2 separate regions of the Homo sapiens genome follow, and region 1 is linked to region 2. Evidence: fine-mapped expression QTL. Tissue or cell type: whole blood. Region 2 holds a variant in brackets; the other region holds the start of a gene. All regions are shown on one strand. Distances are between the middles of the regions.

What was found. PIP is the estimated chance that this variant, and not a neighbour inherited with it, causes the effect.
Region 1: it holds the start of C1QTNF6, and the variant in region 2 is fine-mapped to the expression of C1QTNF6 in whole blood (Lepik 2017, PIP 0.90).

Annotation. Positions count from the first base shown.
Region 1 is chr22:37,184,229-37,192,340 of GRCh38, reverse strand. C1QTNF6 (C1q and TNF related 6) reads left to right here and starts at 4,094. Exons shown (of 3, transcript NM_031910.4): 1 at 4,094-4,178; 2 at 6,886-7,123. The coding sequence starts at 4,128. IL2RB-AS1 (IL2RB and C1QTNF6 antisense RNA 1) reads right to left here. Exons shown (of 2, transcript NR_199008.1): 2 at 5,519-8,112. RefSeq lists enhancers at 2,451-3,084, 3,085-3,720, 3,721-4,354, 4,355-4,990.
Region 2 is chr22:37,263,908-37,272,019 of GRCh38, reverse strand. It overlaps LOC107985576 (a long non-coding RNA gene), which reads left to right and starts at 6,463. Exons shown (of 3, transcript XR_001755534.1): 1 at 6,463-7,216; 2 at 8,065-8,112. RefSeq lists enhancers at 4,473-4,662, 4,683-4,742. The variant G/A (reference allele first, on the strand shown) is at 3,340.

The sequences.
Region 1 (8,112 bases), 80 kb after region 2:
ACTTACCAGGTTTTTCACCAAAAAATAAAAGTTGCTAAGAGTTAACATCGTAATATGTTATATGTAATTGAGACTACTAGAGAAACAGTTTTATATGCAAGGTGTGTAAGGAAAATTGAATATGCTTTTGGTAAGAAGATTATAAGAAAGCATGGGAATGTGGACTTTCCCCCTACTTTAGAGGGTTAAAGGATTGTTTCAAGTTAGGTAGGATAAAGCTGAAGGTTTGAGCAAGTTATGGAAGGTTTGTGAAAGATTAATCTTGTAAAAGAAATTCTGTGTGAACTTATTGGCTTAAATTAAAGGGATATTATTCAGTTTTTCCATAAATTAAATATGGAATAAAAGTATAACAAGGTTTTCTTAGAGCACTGGTATACTCTTTAACAAGAAAATTGTAAAGAGCTATAAAAGGTTTATGAGACTCTTACCTCATGGTCAAACATTAAAATTGGATAGAGTTGTCTATAAGGCTTTATTATGAATTGGGTTTGACATTAATAGTACACAAATGCAAAGGTAAAATTTGGCTTTCTCTCTTGAACAAGTTTTTCATGTAATATTGAAAAATAATTAAAGATTTTTGTTTGCCTTTTGAATAAGCTATAGAAAAAAGAAAGGAACGAAAAGAGACAGTTTTTTTTGGAAAGCTAAGTCTTCCCTTTATCGGTGAGTAAAGGTTTTTGCCCTTAAAAACATCTTTGAGTTATCATTTTGGCCAAATAAATGACTTATGGTGACCTGGGATGCTATTTTGTAGTATCAAATGTTTTAAATTTTTGATATTTGACAAACTTTCCAAAATCAAATTCTAAGTTATGCCTTTTTCTAACCTGATTAGTCCTTTAGATATTAGGTCCCCTAAAGTCCAAAAATGACATATTTGGCTTATTTGGTACATTAAAATAATACAGGAAGCATTGTCAAATATGAAATTGTGTTTGGCTTTCTTTGGGCTGTGTTTATATAAATATGTTATTGGTATGTGTTCCAAAATTATGGGAAACTCCTATAATTCTGATATGAACATTATCAATACTAATGGACATTATCAATAATAATTATAATTGTTATGATGTTAATTTATTATATGCCACAGAGGTATCCACATTTCCTAGTCAATGATATTAATTCTTTAACCATGACTGCTCTAAGTCTTTCTGTCATCCATAGACAATTGTTGTCTTGCTTTTATTCTCTTCAAAAGGTGGTTTATAATCAGCTATAGGACTCTGATGAGTACTCTTAAATGCAGAGAAAAAGAAAACATCATCCAAGACTCTTGGAAAACTAACACATATATATCAAGCAAAACAGGAATTAATTGCATAGACTGAACTAATAAAAGACTGAAATAATCTTTTATGACTTTTTGCTTAAAATGTTGTTGATCTTTCTGTTTTGTTTTTCAGAGTCAAGAAACCCCCCCTTCTTGAGCTATTTACAGCTTTTAACAATTGAGTAAAGTACGCTCCGGTAAGGATTATAAAACAAAGTTTTGTCCAAAAACAAAATTTGGAATATGTTTTTTTCTCTTTACCTGATTTCTGCAGAATTTGGAAACTATTTGTGAGTGTTCTTAACTTACGGCAATATAGTTATTTGCATAAGTGCAGTAAGAATCTGTTTTTCCTTCTTTCTTCTTTTTTTTTTTTTGTAACAGGACACAATTGGAGAAACTGGTTATTTAACAAGGGTTTGACTCGAGTGGCATGCTTTCAAATATAAACAGACTTCTTTAAGGAATTAAAGTTGACTAATAGAGCCAATAAAAGCCTCTTGGAAAAACTGGTCTTGTACCTTGTGTATGAAGTCCCTGTATAGGGTTCCTGACCTGTGGTAAGTAAAGAATGTAACTTTCTGACAGGCCTGGGAGCCCCGAGTTATCTCGGGACCTCAAGAGGAGAGGAATTTATCTAACTCATACAGGTTCTTGCAGGCATAGGTAAATCCATGGCTGGGCTCAAAGCTTTAAAACATCTAATCTAAGATACCTTATGAAACAAAGCCAATTTTAAAAGGAGCCTGTATGGCAAATAATTATACTTGCTGCACTTTATGCAAATAATGAAGCCAAGTATAATAAGACTAAAGCTTATTTTGCAAATAAATTGGTCCTACCATGATTTGTTTTTAATAAAAAATGGGAGACTGGAGAGAGAAAAACGGTGTTTCAAAAAATATGGTACACCTGTCATAGATTCTAGTCTCATCCATTGTTTTTGAGTTTTTTGTCTGCAATTTAGACTGACCTTGCTTCTTTCTGTGAACCAAACAGTCATCTCTTGACTGCTTCTCGTCAGAAACAAGAGGGATGGATAACATAAAAATCTGGATCAGTATCTAATTCTGAGCATGTATTGGAATCGTCTAGCAACTCCGTATCAGCTCATCTAGCAATTCCTGTGACTAAGAATGCCTAACCTCCTGGGAATGCAGCCCAGTAGGTCTCAGCCTCATTTTACCCGATAAGTCACAGGCATTCTTGCCCAGTTCATGGAAAGCCTTCTTATTTGGATTACTTGGGATAATTTTACTTATTTTACTTTGCTGTTGTAGAATATATTGCTGCTATACTCTTTGTGTAAGAATGCAAGATAAGCTTACTCAGTGCTTCCTTAAATTGAACACATTAATCTTCCAGATATCACCTTTTGTTAGGACTCAGAGTTACAAATGACTCTGAACACACCAACATTTTCTTACTCAGTTCCTCTCTGCACCAAACCCAAGAGACTCTAATAGTTAGGCAGGAATATCATCGCCTCTATTCAGCCTGAAGAAGTTACAGAAGATGGATCTTCATGCCTCTACAACCCTTAAGATTAAACGTTCCCTCGTAAAAGAGAGTAGGGAAATATGTCAGAGGTGTTCAAAATAGGGCAACTCCATCTTGAATAGGGGCTGGGTAAAATGAGGCTAAGACCTGCCAGGCTGCATTCCCAGGAGGTCAGGCATTTGTAGTCACAGGAAGGGATAGGAAGTTGGCAGGACTGGTATCACAAGATACAGGTCATCAAGACCCTGCTGAGAAACAGTATGCGGTAAACAAACCAGCCAAAACCTGCCAAATCTAAGATTGCAATGAAAGTGACATCTGGTCATCCTTATTGCTCATTGTATGTTAATTAAAATGTGTTAGCTTGCTAAAACACACTTCTACCAGCACCAAGACAGCCTACAAATACCATGGCAATGTCCGGAAATTACCCTATATTGTCTAAAAGGGGGAGGAAGCCTCAGTTTCAGGAAATTCCCACCCCTTTCCTGGAAAACTCATGAATAATCCACCCCTGTTTAGCATAGGATCAAGAAATAACTATAAAAATAGCCAACTAGCAGTGCTTGGGGGTGCTCTGCCTATGGAGTAGCCATTCTTTTGTTTCTTTGCTTCTCTAATAAACTTGCTTTCACTTTGCTCTGTGGACTTACCCCAAATTCTTTCTGGTGCAAGATCCAAGAATTCTCTCTTGGGGTCTGATCAGTACCCCTCTCTGGTAACACTTGCATGATACCTGAGGAGGTCAGCCTGGTCATTCACCCAACAAACATGGGTTAAGCCCTCCCATGTGCCTGGCACAAAGGGGGCTGAGGACTGCAGTTCTGGAACACCTAGGCTCTGAGAGGCGACGCGACTGTGGTAGCAGGGCCAGGATTCTAGCCTGTGCCTGGAGGGCCAACACCTGCACCTTCTCTGCTACCCACCCTGCCTCTGTGACTCAGAGCAGTTAAGCACTTTAGCTCAGGGTGGACTCAGGGCTGCCTCCCCCTTCCTGAGCAACCTAGGGGCTCCTGTGCCCCATGCCTGTGTCCATTTCCCAATCATCAGGGGGCCTCAGACTCCTGCCTGCTCTGACTTTCTAGGCCTTTGAATCAAGCAAGACCCCACTGGATCACCAAAGAGTTAAGCAAAGGAAATCCCTGCCTCCCTTTATCTCCGCAGAACCCAGAGGCTGAAAGGGAGGGAGCAGGGAGGAGGGGAAGTGGGAAGCGGCTCTGCCCTCTCCCTCCGCCCTCCCTCCGCCCTCTCTCCCTCCATCCCCTCCTCTCTCCCTCCTCTGCTGGGCCTGGGGGTCTGGGCCAGCAACAAGTTAGTATTGCAGACATGGGCCAAGGAGCCAGAGGCCATGCAGTGGCTCAGGGTCCGTGAGTCGCCTGGGGAGGCCACAGGACACAGGGTGAGTGACCAGAGGCTCCTCAAGCTTGGGGGCTGGGGTCAGAGCCTGGAATTCCTCTCCTCCCTCCTTGCTTCCTGGAAGCATCTCGGGCCCTGCTCTCTCCCTCTGACTGGGACAGCCTCTCCAGGCTCTCCCCTCCACATTTCCTCCTGCCTCTGGCTGAGGGCTGCGCTCCACTGCTCCCGGTTTGTGCCCGCCCCTACCCGGGCACACACAAACTCAGCTCTGCACGGCCTGCCTGGACCGAGAAAAGTTGCCCTGCCGCTCCCTCCCCAAAGAGGTCCCAGTGGAAGCAGCAAGGACCCCAAAAGTCCTCCCTATGACTTGGTTCCCACACTTGGTCCCTGCCTGGCACCCACCCCCAGAGCTAGTTCGTGATCCTGGCTGTGGTTATGATTCCTCGTTAACGGCTTCCTGATTCCTGCTCCCAGGCCACGGTTCTGTGTCTCACAGCCTTTGACTCCCATCCGCTGGGGCCAATAGGAAACAGAAATGCTCCCAAACCATGCCAGTCCTCTGGGAGAAGTTCTCCTTCCCATCCCATGCAGGCACAGGGAAGAAGTCAAAGCACACTTTTTTTTTTTTTTTTAAGTCTTTTATAAGGCAGGCACTTTTCCTGCATTGAAATCCTTCCAAATTACCTGGGAGGGAAAGGGTGGTGTCATTTCCTTGTAAGTATCAAGGAGCAGGAAGCCCAGAGAGGTTCAGCCACTAGCCCTAGGTCACACAGCTTGCAAACTATTCTGGGTCTCAGATTTGACTCTAAGACCTCAGCTTTTCTCATGAGGTCATATCTGTGGCTGGGAAAAAGAAGGGAATTTTGGGATTTCCAAAACCACTGGGATTTGTCATTTATAAGTAAAAGTTGAGGATGACAGTCTCAGACAGGGAGGATGTTGATCTCTGAGGATTTGACCTCCTTATTGAGCAGAACCAGGAACCCAACCAGGGTGGGCAGAGAGAAGCTTGGGAAGAGTCACCTCCAGGAAGAGGGAGGTGGCTCTGGAGACTTCCTGTCCAGCCCCCTTCTCCTGCTGCTACCATCCAGCTCTGGGGGTGGGGGGCAGGGCTCCTGCCGCTTTATTTATTTTTAGTTTTAATTTTTGAAAAATAGAGACAGGGTCTCACTATGTTGCCCAGACTGGTCTCGAACTCCGGGACTCGAGTGATCCTCTCTCCGTGGCCTCCCAAAGTGCTGGGATTGCAGGAGTAAGTCACTGCACCTGGCCATCCTGCCCCTTTAAAACTCTGCCCTCACCTCAGTGCTCAGCTGAGACAGGGTGGCATTTTAAAAAGTAATAATTGTACCTTGTCTACATGTATTAACCACAAAAAAAATATTTTTGAATTCTACTAAATGTTAAAGGAGAACAAAAAGGAAATAAACAAAGAAACGCCAGAAGTGTAAAAACCAGTCTGGTTTCAAAAGCAGAGTTTCTGATCCTGTGATAACTCGGCACCAGCCCCCAGAAGCTGCACCACCTCAAAGGTCTTTTTGCCCGGCTTCCTGCCCACCCAACCCAGGACTGTCTCTAGCGCCTGGTGTCCAGGCTACTTCCTGCCTCTCTCCTGGAGCCCTAGACCCCTTCTTGGCCAAGGCCAGAGACAGATCCTCACCAACACTTACACTTTTCTGATCCTTTAGAATTTTTTATACCTCCTAGTCCTACCCCTTAATTCCAATTTACCACCTTGGCATCTGATTGGCAGGTCTACGATGATTGACACAACCATCTTCCAATGAACTAACTCTCTCTACAGAACCCTCCCTGCAGGGCTTCTGGATAAGGTTGGGTTGCATAGATAGTTGACTGCACAAAGGTGCTGAGCAGGGAGGTGGACTAGCGCCAGCCCTTGCCAAGCTGCACACCCTCAGCATCACGTCCCTCCAACGGGGACTCTTATCATTTCTAATTTGTCCAGAGGGGCACCTTCTTTGCTTTGCACAAAGGCACTCTAAAGACTAGCAATGGGCTGCAGTCAAGGACCCAGTATTCCTTCTCCTGACTGCTCAGCGATGCAATGACACCATCACCGCGCACCACCCCACATGCTCTCATGGACGTTGCTTTCTGTCTGCTAGGATCAATGAACTCTCTTATCTCTTTTTTTTCAGAACTATGGTGTTCTCACACCAAAGCATGGGCTCGGCCACCCATCCCCTCTCCTGAGAACAAGCCTCCAGAACCCTCCACGTTTGTCCCCAGTGTTCACTAACCTCAGTCCTCCTGCCCGGAGGGCATGTGTTTGCTGGAGATAGTGGAGTCGGTGGCAAGAAAGTGCCAGAGGGAGGTGCGCGGGCGGGAAAGCATCTGACGGTCTCCTGGGTTGCCACCCATGGCCAGCTGGGGCATCTTCTCACCTGCCCCAGCAAAGCTTCCTGGGATCCCTGTCTGCTCTCAGCTGTGGCTGTTTTCAGAGGGGCTTCATCCTTCCAAGGCCTGTGTGGAGCAGAAGCCTCCATGGACTGGGTGCCCGGAGACTCAGCATGCAGGCCCTGCCCTGCCAGTCTCCTCCCGATCTTGGGGAACTTGCTGCTCTGTGGAGGTCTCAGTCTTCTTGTCTGATAGATGGGGACAATAACCTTCCCTCTGGAGTTAGGTCAGGAGTGCTGTGGCTGGAGGACGCAGCACCCGCCCACCCCAGGCATCGGCACATAGTAGATGTTGAGTGAAGTATAGTTCCTGTCCCTCCTTCCTTGTTCCAGGTCACCATGGGGACAGCCGCCCTGGGTCCCGTCTGGGCAGCGCTCCTGCTCTTTCTCCTGATGTGTGAGATCCCTATGGTGGAGCTCACCTTTGACAGAGCTGTGGCCAGCGGCTGCCAACGGTGCTGTGACTCTGAGGACCCCCTGGATCCTGCCCATGTATCCTCAGCCTCTTCCTCCGGCCGCCCCCACGCCCTGCCTGAGATCAGACCCTACATTAATATCACCATCCTGAAGGGTGAGTGCCCTCCTGTGGGGCCTGGTAGTGGGCAGGGAGGGCCAGGGAGCTGAGGTGGAGGGAGTAGAGGGCAGGGCGGAAACCTGTCCAGACTCCTCTTTCATCCTGAGTTATTGAGCCCCAATGTGAGCCTGGTCTGTTCCAAACACTGATGACGGAGCGTGAACAAACCAGACCAAGATGCCTCCTGCCTGAGCACCCGTTCTCGGTGGGGAGATGGGCTGTGAGCAAGGCACACATCACCTAAGTTAGTGGAGTGGAATGTTCGATGGTGATCAGTGCTCTGGGAAATGAAAAGGGGCTTCAGGAGTGCGGGTCTGGGCTGCAGGCTGCATATTGAATGAGGTGGTCAGTGGAGGACCCATGGAGCACAGGCTTCTAAGAGGTGGTGGAGGAGCCTCCTGGCAAAGGGCACAGCTGGTGCAGGGGCCCTGGGGCAGGGCCGGGAGATGCACCAGGCTCAGATCACATGGGGTGCTGTCACCACCCGGCTACTGTAGGGACTTGGGCTCCGCTGAGTGGAGTGGGAACAGGGGCAGGTTTGGGTGGGACAGGGACTTGATCCCACCCAGGTTTCAAATGGATCCCTCTAATGTCATGTGGAGAGCAACCAGCGGGGGCCGAGGGTCGGAGCATGCAGCCCTGTGGGGCCTGTCCAGGTGAGGGCCATCCAGGTGAGGGCTGTCCAGGTGAGGGCTGTCCAGGTGAGGGCCCGTCCAGGTGAAAGGCATCCAGGTGAGGGCCGTCCAGGTGCGGGCTGGCTACCCGCTCTCTCAATAGGACGTGGAAGGACTCGCTTCCCTTCCAGGCTGTGGTGGCTGACGGCTGTGACCAGGCCTTGACATCCTTAGCGTCCGTCTCTGCCCACAACAGCCCGTGAGGTCGATATTTTCTTATTCCTCCCACTTTGCAGATGGGGAAACCCAGTCTCCTGGGGCCACACAGCTGTCAGGGATGGAGCCAGGATTTGTTCCTGAGCTCTCCCCGGG
Region 2 (8,112 bases):
GGAGGACTAGCTTCTTTCTGGTGTCAGCCAGCAGCTCCTTGGATTCCAATGAGTCACCCTGGCTTTGAACCTCAGTGCCTCCACCCGTGAGCTGCAGCAGCATCAGTCAGGCTCAGCCTTTCCATCTGTAAAATGCGGATACCGTGGAATGTCTCAGCAGCTTGGGAAGATCAGAGGGAGCAAAGGCAGAAGACAGGGGCTGGCTGTGTTTTCTTGAGATTTAGGAAAGATGATCTTAGGGAGGGAAACTCAAACCTGGATACACACCAGCCTCACCTGGGGTATCTGTTAAGATATAGACTCCCAAGTTCTGAGTCTGTCTCTCCGATGGAGGGACCTGGAATCATTATTTCAAACATGCTCTCAGATGCCTGTGACCCCAGTAAGGGCCATGCTGTCCTCCAGGTTCTGTAAAGATGTCAGGACATGCTCTGGGCTTCGGCCTTCAGCGAAGAAGTTCTTTTAAGTAACAAGGAAGCCACTTCTTTGCTTGCTGTTGAGGGCATGATGTCACCCAGTGCCTCTTACAGCAGAGCACGTAAGAGCTTTCGCCTGGCATGGTGTTAAGAAAACCCATCTCGCTAAGAAACTGACATGCTTCTCCTTTTCCAGTAAGGAGAACTGAGTAATGTATCCTGTTTCCCTTTTTGCCCCAGCTGCCAGGAAGCTCAGGCCAATCCGAATCTCATCAGCAACAACTCATCATTTGGCATATTTCCCTCTGCTTTTCTCATTGGTCTTGATCTTCTACTTTTGTATTCCTAGCTTTTTGTGTATGTGGGAGATGGAGATTCTCAATATAAAAGGAAAGGAGGAGGGAAGGAAGAAAGGCAGAATAAAGATATCCATCATGGGACACCACACTTAAAATTTTGGCCGCCAGCCTGCTGTGTGCCCTCAGGTCACTCACTCTCACTCTCTGATTCCCTCTACCCTCCTCACCCCCATCAGTCTCCCCTGCAGCCTCTCCTTTCTCTGTCTTCCCTGAAATGTTTATTCCCTTATTCATTCAACATATATTTATGGAATACCTATCTGTTCTGCTCCATAACAAATGACTTTGAAACGTCTTAGTGGATTTAAACAGCATTGATTTTGCTCACGAATCCGCAGTCTAGGCAGGGTCCCCCTGGGAGAGCCGGTCTCTGCTCTTCTTGAGGTCGGCTGGGGTGTTAATATCTGAAGGCTCAAACATGTGTCATTTCTTGGTGTTGGGGGAACACTAGCTATTTTCAAAATCTTCCCATCTAACTATTTTGAAATATACAAAAATCGTCCGCTATAGACTTCCTGCTGTGTTATAGAACGATAGAGATCATTCCTCCTATCCGGCTGTCATTTTGTACTTGTTAACCAATCTCTTCCTCCCCTCTGCTCCCCGATCCCCTTTCTATCCTCTGGTGACCTCCATTCTACTCTCTGCCTCTGTGAGATTGACTTTTTAGCTCCTACATATGAGAGACAATTTGTCTTCCTGCGCCTGACTTAATTCACTAACATAATGTCCTCCAGGCTCATCCGTGTTGTTGCAAATGATGATATTTCATTATTTTTTATGGCTGAGTAATATTCCACTGTGTATATGTATCACATTTTCTTTATCTATTCATCCACTGATAGACACTTAGGTTGCTCCCATATCTTGGCTATTGTGAATAATGACACAATAAACATGGGAGTACAGACATCTCTTCAACATGCTGATTTTCTTTCCTTTGGACATATACCCAGGAGTGGGATTGCAGGATCATATGGTAGCGCTAGTTGTAGTTTTTTGAGGAAGCTCCGGACTGTTTTCCATAACAGCTGTACTGATTTACATCCCCACCAACAGTGGCCGAGTTCCCCTTTCTCTGCATTCTTGCCAGCATTTGCCATGTTCTGTCTTTTTGATTATAGCAATTTTAACTGGGGTGAGATAATATCTTATTGTGGTTTTATTGTATTTCCCTGACGACTGGCAACGTTGAACATTTGTTTTTCATGTTATCTGTTGGCTATCTGCATGTCTTCTTTTGAGAAATGTCTATTCAAGTCTTTTGCCCATTTAAAAATTGTATTTTTTTTTCTTCCTGTTGAGTTATTTGAGCTCCTTCTGTGTTCTGGACATTAATTCTTTGTTGGGTGGATAGTTTGCAAATATTCCCTCCCATTCTATAGGTTGCCTCTTCTCTCTGTGGATTGTTTCCTTTGCCATGCAGATGTTTTTGGCTTGTTGCATTCCCCATTTGTCTATTTTTGCTTTTGTTGCCTGTGCTTTCGAGGTCTTATAAAAAAAAAAAACACTTTGTCCAGACCAATGTCCTGAGGCATTTTCTCTATGCTTTCTTCTAGTACTTTCCTAGTTTCGAGTCTTACATTTATGTCTTTAATCCATTTTGAGCTGATTTTTGTGTGTGGTGGGAGACAGGGGTCTAGGTTCCTTCTTCTGCATGCTGATATCCAATTTTCCTGGTCCACTTACTGAAGAGACTGTCCTTTCCTCAGTGTATATTCTTGGTGCCTTTGTAAAAAACCATTTGGCTGTAAATACGTGGATTTATATCTGGGTTTTCTATTCTGTTCCATTGGTCTATGTGTCCATTTTTGTTTTTGTTTTTGTTTTCTGAGACAGAGTCTTACTTCTTGCCCAGGCTGGAGTGCAGCAGCGCCATCTCCGCTCACTGCAATCTCCACCTCCCGGGTTCAAGCGATCCTCCCACCTCAGCCTCCCAAGTAGCTGGGAATACAGGCAAAAGCCACCATGGTTGGCTAATTTTTGTAGTTTTAGTAGAGACGGGGTTTCACCTTGTTGGCCAGGCTGGTCTTGAACTCTGACCTCAAGTGAACTCCTGCCTCAGCCTCCCAAAGTGCTGGGAATACAGCTGTGAGCCACTGCACCTGGCCTATGTGTCTACTTTTATGCCAGTACCATGCTGTTTTGGTTACTATAGCCTGGTGGTATGTTTTGAAGTCAGGTAGTGTGATGCCTCCAGCTTTCTTCCTTTTGCTCAAAGGCCCTGAATGCTTTGTCCATACAGATTGCATACAGATTTTAGGATTTTTTTTTTCTATTTCTGTGATGAATGTCATTGATATTTTGGTAAAGATTATATTGAATCTGTAGATCCCTTTGTGTGGTATGGACATTTTAACAATATTAATTCTTCCAATCCATGAACATGGGTTATTTTTCCATGTTTTTGTGTCCTCTTCAGTTTCTCTCATCAGTGTTTTATAATTTTCATCATAGAGATCTTTTCCCTCTTAGGTTAAATTTATTCATGGCTGGGCATGGTGGCTCACGCCTGTAATCCCAGCACTTTGGAAAGCCGAGGCGGGTGGATCACGAGGTCAGGA[G/A]ATAGAGACCATCCTGGCTAACACGGTGAAACCCCGTCTCTACTAAAAATACAAAAAAAAAAAAAAAAAATTAGCCAGGTGTCATGGCGGGCATCTGCTGTCCCAGCTACTCGGGAGGCTGAGGCAGGAGAATGGCGTGAACCCGGGAGGTGGAGCTTGCAGTGAGCCGAGATCGCACCATTGCACTCCAGCCTGGGCAACAGAACGAGACTCTGTCTCAAAAAAAAAATTATTCGTAAGTGTGGTTTTTTTTTTTTTTTTGCAGCTATTATAAATGGGATTGCTTTTTTCTTTTTCAAGTTGCTTCCTACCGGTGTAAAGAAACACTTCTGATTTTTGTATGTTGATTTTGCGTCTTGCAACTTCACTGAATTTATTAGTCCTAACCATTTTTGAATGGAGTGTTTGGGTTTTTGTAAATATAAGATGATGTCATCTGCAAAAAGGGACAATTTTACTTCCTGCTTTCCAGTTTGGATGCCATTTTTTTCTTTCACTTGCCCAATTGCTCCGGGTAGGGCTAGAGTTTCAGTTTTGCAACCTTAAAAAAGTTGCACATTGTGAATGTACTTAATGTCACTGAACTTTACACTTCAAATGGTAAAAATGGTACATTTTCTGTTATGTATATTTCACTACAATTAAAACAACACAAATGAAGCCCTACAGAAAAGTTTTTTAAAAGGCCACCAAAAACCCTAGAAAGCTCTGGGAGGCACCCAGTGCGAGACCCGCACAGAGGGGCTCAGGCCTGAGATCAGGCCACCAAGCTGGGCAGACATGGCCAGCTCCTCCCCGTTACTGCTGGCTGCCCCGCTATAGTGAGCTTCCCTCTCTGGGCCTCAGCTTCCTTTTCTGTAAAACAGGGTTAGTGACCAGGTGCGGTGGCTCATGCCTGTAATTCCAGCACTTTGGGAGGCCGAGGTGGGTGGATCACCTGAGATCAGGAGTTCGAGACCAGCCTGACCAACAAGGTGAAACCCTGTCTCTGCTAAAAATACAAAAATTAGCCGGGCATGGTGGCAGGCGCCTGTAATCCCAGCTACTCAGGAGGCTGAGACAGGAGAATCGCTTGAACTCGGGAGGTGGAGGTTGCAGTGAGCCGAGATCGCACCACTGCACTCCAGTCTGAGTGATGGAGTGAGACTCCGTCTCAAAAACAAAACGAAAAACAGAAAACAAAAACAAAAAAACCGGGGTTAGTGACGACGCCTCCCTCAAGGGAAGGTTGTTTTTGTTTCATTTTTTCAAACAAGGGAAGTTTTGCAGAATGTAATGAAATAATCCATGTAAGGCAGTCAGCACAGAGCACGGCCACGAGTGGCCGAGGGAAGTGGGCCTGGGGTCTCTCAGCTCTCCAGAGCCGAGGCCCACAGGAGGAGCCAGACCAGAGTCGGGGCAGGGGTCTGGCCCTCCTTGCCCCACCCCTCGTCGGTTTCCTAGGTGACCAAAGCCAGCCCGCGGGCTCCCCTGCGTGGTCGCCGCGGGGATGGCACTCAGAGAACCCACCGCCTGGGGCTCCCCTGTGAACGAGGGGACCTCTGAGGGTCCTTCAGCCCCAATACCCAGGTATCCGTGGGGCTGGATTCTGGCCGGGAACAGGGCTGGACCCCTAGGAGCCCGTCACATGGGGGAGGCAATCCAATCCAGGATGATTCCGCTGACACGTAACGAGTTCTTGAAACAGTATGAACGGGAGTGGTAAGGATGGATTCCACATGGGGAGAACTGGGGAAGGGGTTGTCAGGTGTAGGGGTTGGGTTAGGAGAGCTGGCTTGGAAGAGGGAAGGGCACCGGGTGGTGGGGACAGCATGTGCAAGCCACAGAGGTGGAGACTGGGCGACCTCTGTGTACACTGGTGGGCAGGAGCACGCACTTAACGCTGAGTGAGTGTATGCGTGTGGCTTTAGCGGGAAGCAGGGGGGATGAACCTCAAAGGAGAAATGGGCCAGGTGCCCACGCCTGTAATCCCAGCGCTTTGAGAGGCCGAGGCCAGCGGATCATCTGAGGTCAAGAGTTTGAGACCAGCCTGGCCAACATGGTGAAACCTAGTCCTTACTAAAAATACAAAAATTAGTCGGGTGTGGTGGCACATGCCTGTAATCTCAGCTACTTGGGAGGTTGAGGCAGGAGAATCGCTTGAACCTGGGAGGTGGACGTTGCAGTGAGCTGACATCTCACCACTGCACTCCAGCCTGGGCCACAGAGTAAGACTCTGTCTCAAAAAAAAAAAAAAAAAGAGAAATGGGAGCCAGGTGGTGAGAGGCTCTGAATGCCAGAACACCATTTACTCTTCTTATTTTTTTCAGATTGGCAATAGGTAAGAAAGAAACCCTCCTTGGTGGGAAATGTCTCTTGTGCCAGATGCCTTGTCCCAAGTGCTCCTCAGTACAACCCTTTGAGATTCTGTTATGAGCCTGCCTTGCCTATGAGTGAGGCTGAGCCTTGGAGAGGTGTCCTCACTCCCTCTGGGTCACATGCCAGATGGTGGAGACCTGAGAACCGGGAACCAAGGTGAGCCCTGATTTGCAGTTTAGAAAGGTCACTCTGGCTGTCATGTGAAGGAAGGACTTGATGGACAGATTAAATGCAGACAGGCCTCTTAGGAGGCTGTTACAAAGGCCCAGGCCAGGGGTGCTGATGGTTGGGGGTACAGAGGATCTGGGGTGTGAGGGACCTTTGTGAGAGGTAATTAGATACTGAAACTGACTGGTCCTGGTGAAAAATCGAGGGTGAAGGTGAGCAGAGTGAAGGATGACTTTGAGGTTTCCAGCCTGGGAGACTGGCGGGTGATGGTGCTGTTTCTACAGGGGGCTGAGCCAGCTTAGTGGGCAGTAGGTTAATGATGGCTGCAAATTCTTTTTTTTTTTTTTTTTTGAGATGGAGTCTCGCTCTGCCGCCCAGGCTGGAATGCAATGGCATGATCTCGGCTCACTGCAACCTCCACCTCCCGGGTTCAAGCCATTCTCCTGCCTCAGCCTCCCAAGTAGGTAAGACTACAGGCATGTGCCACCATGCCTGGCTAATTTTTTGTATTTTTAGTAGAGACAGGGTTTCACCGTGTTGGCCAGGCTGGTTTCAAACTCCTGACCTCAAGTGATCCGCCCGCCTTGGCCTCCCAAAGTGCTGAGCCACTGTGCCCAGCCGATGGCTGCAAATTCTGTGCTCCTCTTTCCATTGAGCGGGGGAGTTTATTCCTTTCTTAGTACCTGGGCTTGGGCCCAGGACTCACGTGACCCATGGAACAGAGGTCCAGCTGGTATTCCATTGCCTGGCTATGGCAACTCGTTCAAGAGTGGTTTGGTGACCTGAGTAAGTCCAGTGAGATTCAGTCCTGGGACTTTTGCTGGAACAACTAGACAAAGAAAACTCCTTTCCAGTTGTGATGTCCAGCTGGGAAGATGATGTGAATCTGGAGTTCTAAGTACCAGAAGGATCCTAAGAATGAAGCCACAGCAGAGGAAGGTGAGTGGGGAGATGTGCAACAACAGCTATTGAGGCTGGATGGTATCATATGGGCCTCTGCATCATCAATGCTGGAAGCCCAGACAACTTGGTTACGTGAGCCAGCTAATTCCCTTTATGGCTATGACAAATATTAAAAAGTAGGCTCACTCAACAGCTATTCTCAATCCCTCTCCAGCTCTCCTTCCTCTACTAACTACAGAGTCTGAAACCTAAATTGTTATTTCCCAGCCTCCTTTGCAGCCAAGGATGGCCATGTGACCTTTCTGGCCAACCAGGGTCCCTGGAGAGGGTGGCCCTTCCTGAATAAAAGGAAATTCTCATGAGGAGAAGGCAGTGTTTGGCCCCCTTCCCTGCTGCTTGGAAAGTGGGTGTGAGGCTGGCAGGTGCAGCCAACTTGCAGCTCTCAACGGTAAGCATGAGGGGCAGAGCAAGTGCTGAGGGTGATGGGACCAAAACACAGAAGGGCCCAGGTTTCTGATGGCACTGCTGGGCTGCAGCTCCAGTCCCAGGCTGCCTCCTGACACCCTGCTGAGTGAGATCAACAAAGCCCTGCCCGAGCAAGCCCTGCTGCTTGTCTGCAGTGGAGTATGAGTGTGCTGACACATGGAGTGAGACAGAGGAGCCCAAACCAGTGCAAGGAGACAACTGGAAAAATATTGAAAAGGGGAGGGAGTGGCCCTAGCCAAGTGATGCAGAGAGGCAGGGTAGGAGTGGGCTAGGGCCCAGGTCGACTCACTCACCTTCCATTCTACCCCGCCTCACCCTCCTATACTGCAGAGGCTAGCAAGCTAAAGCCACCCTTCCTCCCGGATCCCTTGCAGCTATGATTCTGGATGTGAATTAGATCCTACCAATGGGATTTGCTCCCATGAGATTTGGAAAGCAGCTGTCTTCTTGCTGCTCTTGGCAGTCATTGCTGGCAAGTGACCTTGTGGGTGTCAATAAGCAGTTGCAGCAGAGGACGCAGTGCTGGACCCTGTGTCGTAGTATCTGGACTCTGACTTCCTGAGGCTCAAGATTCGGGTACAGCAGTGGTGGTAGCATCCTAACCCCTGGGTGGCAGCCACAGTGGGGGGTTTAGAGGTGGCCCCTGACTCCTCACCTTCCTGGCTGTGGCCTCGGTGGCAGCCCCTCTTGGTCAGTTCTGTGGTGTCCTGGGAGTCATTTCTGGAAACTGGCCCTGGAGCACGCTCCCTGAGTACATCTTATGATGTTGTAGGTGCTGAATTTCCTATGTTCAATCTCTTTCTGCTTAAGATACCTAATGTGGCTTCTAGTCCTTACACTGAAACATGACTGATACAA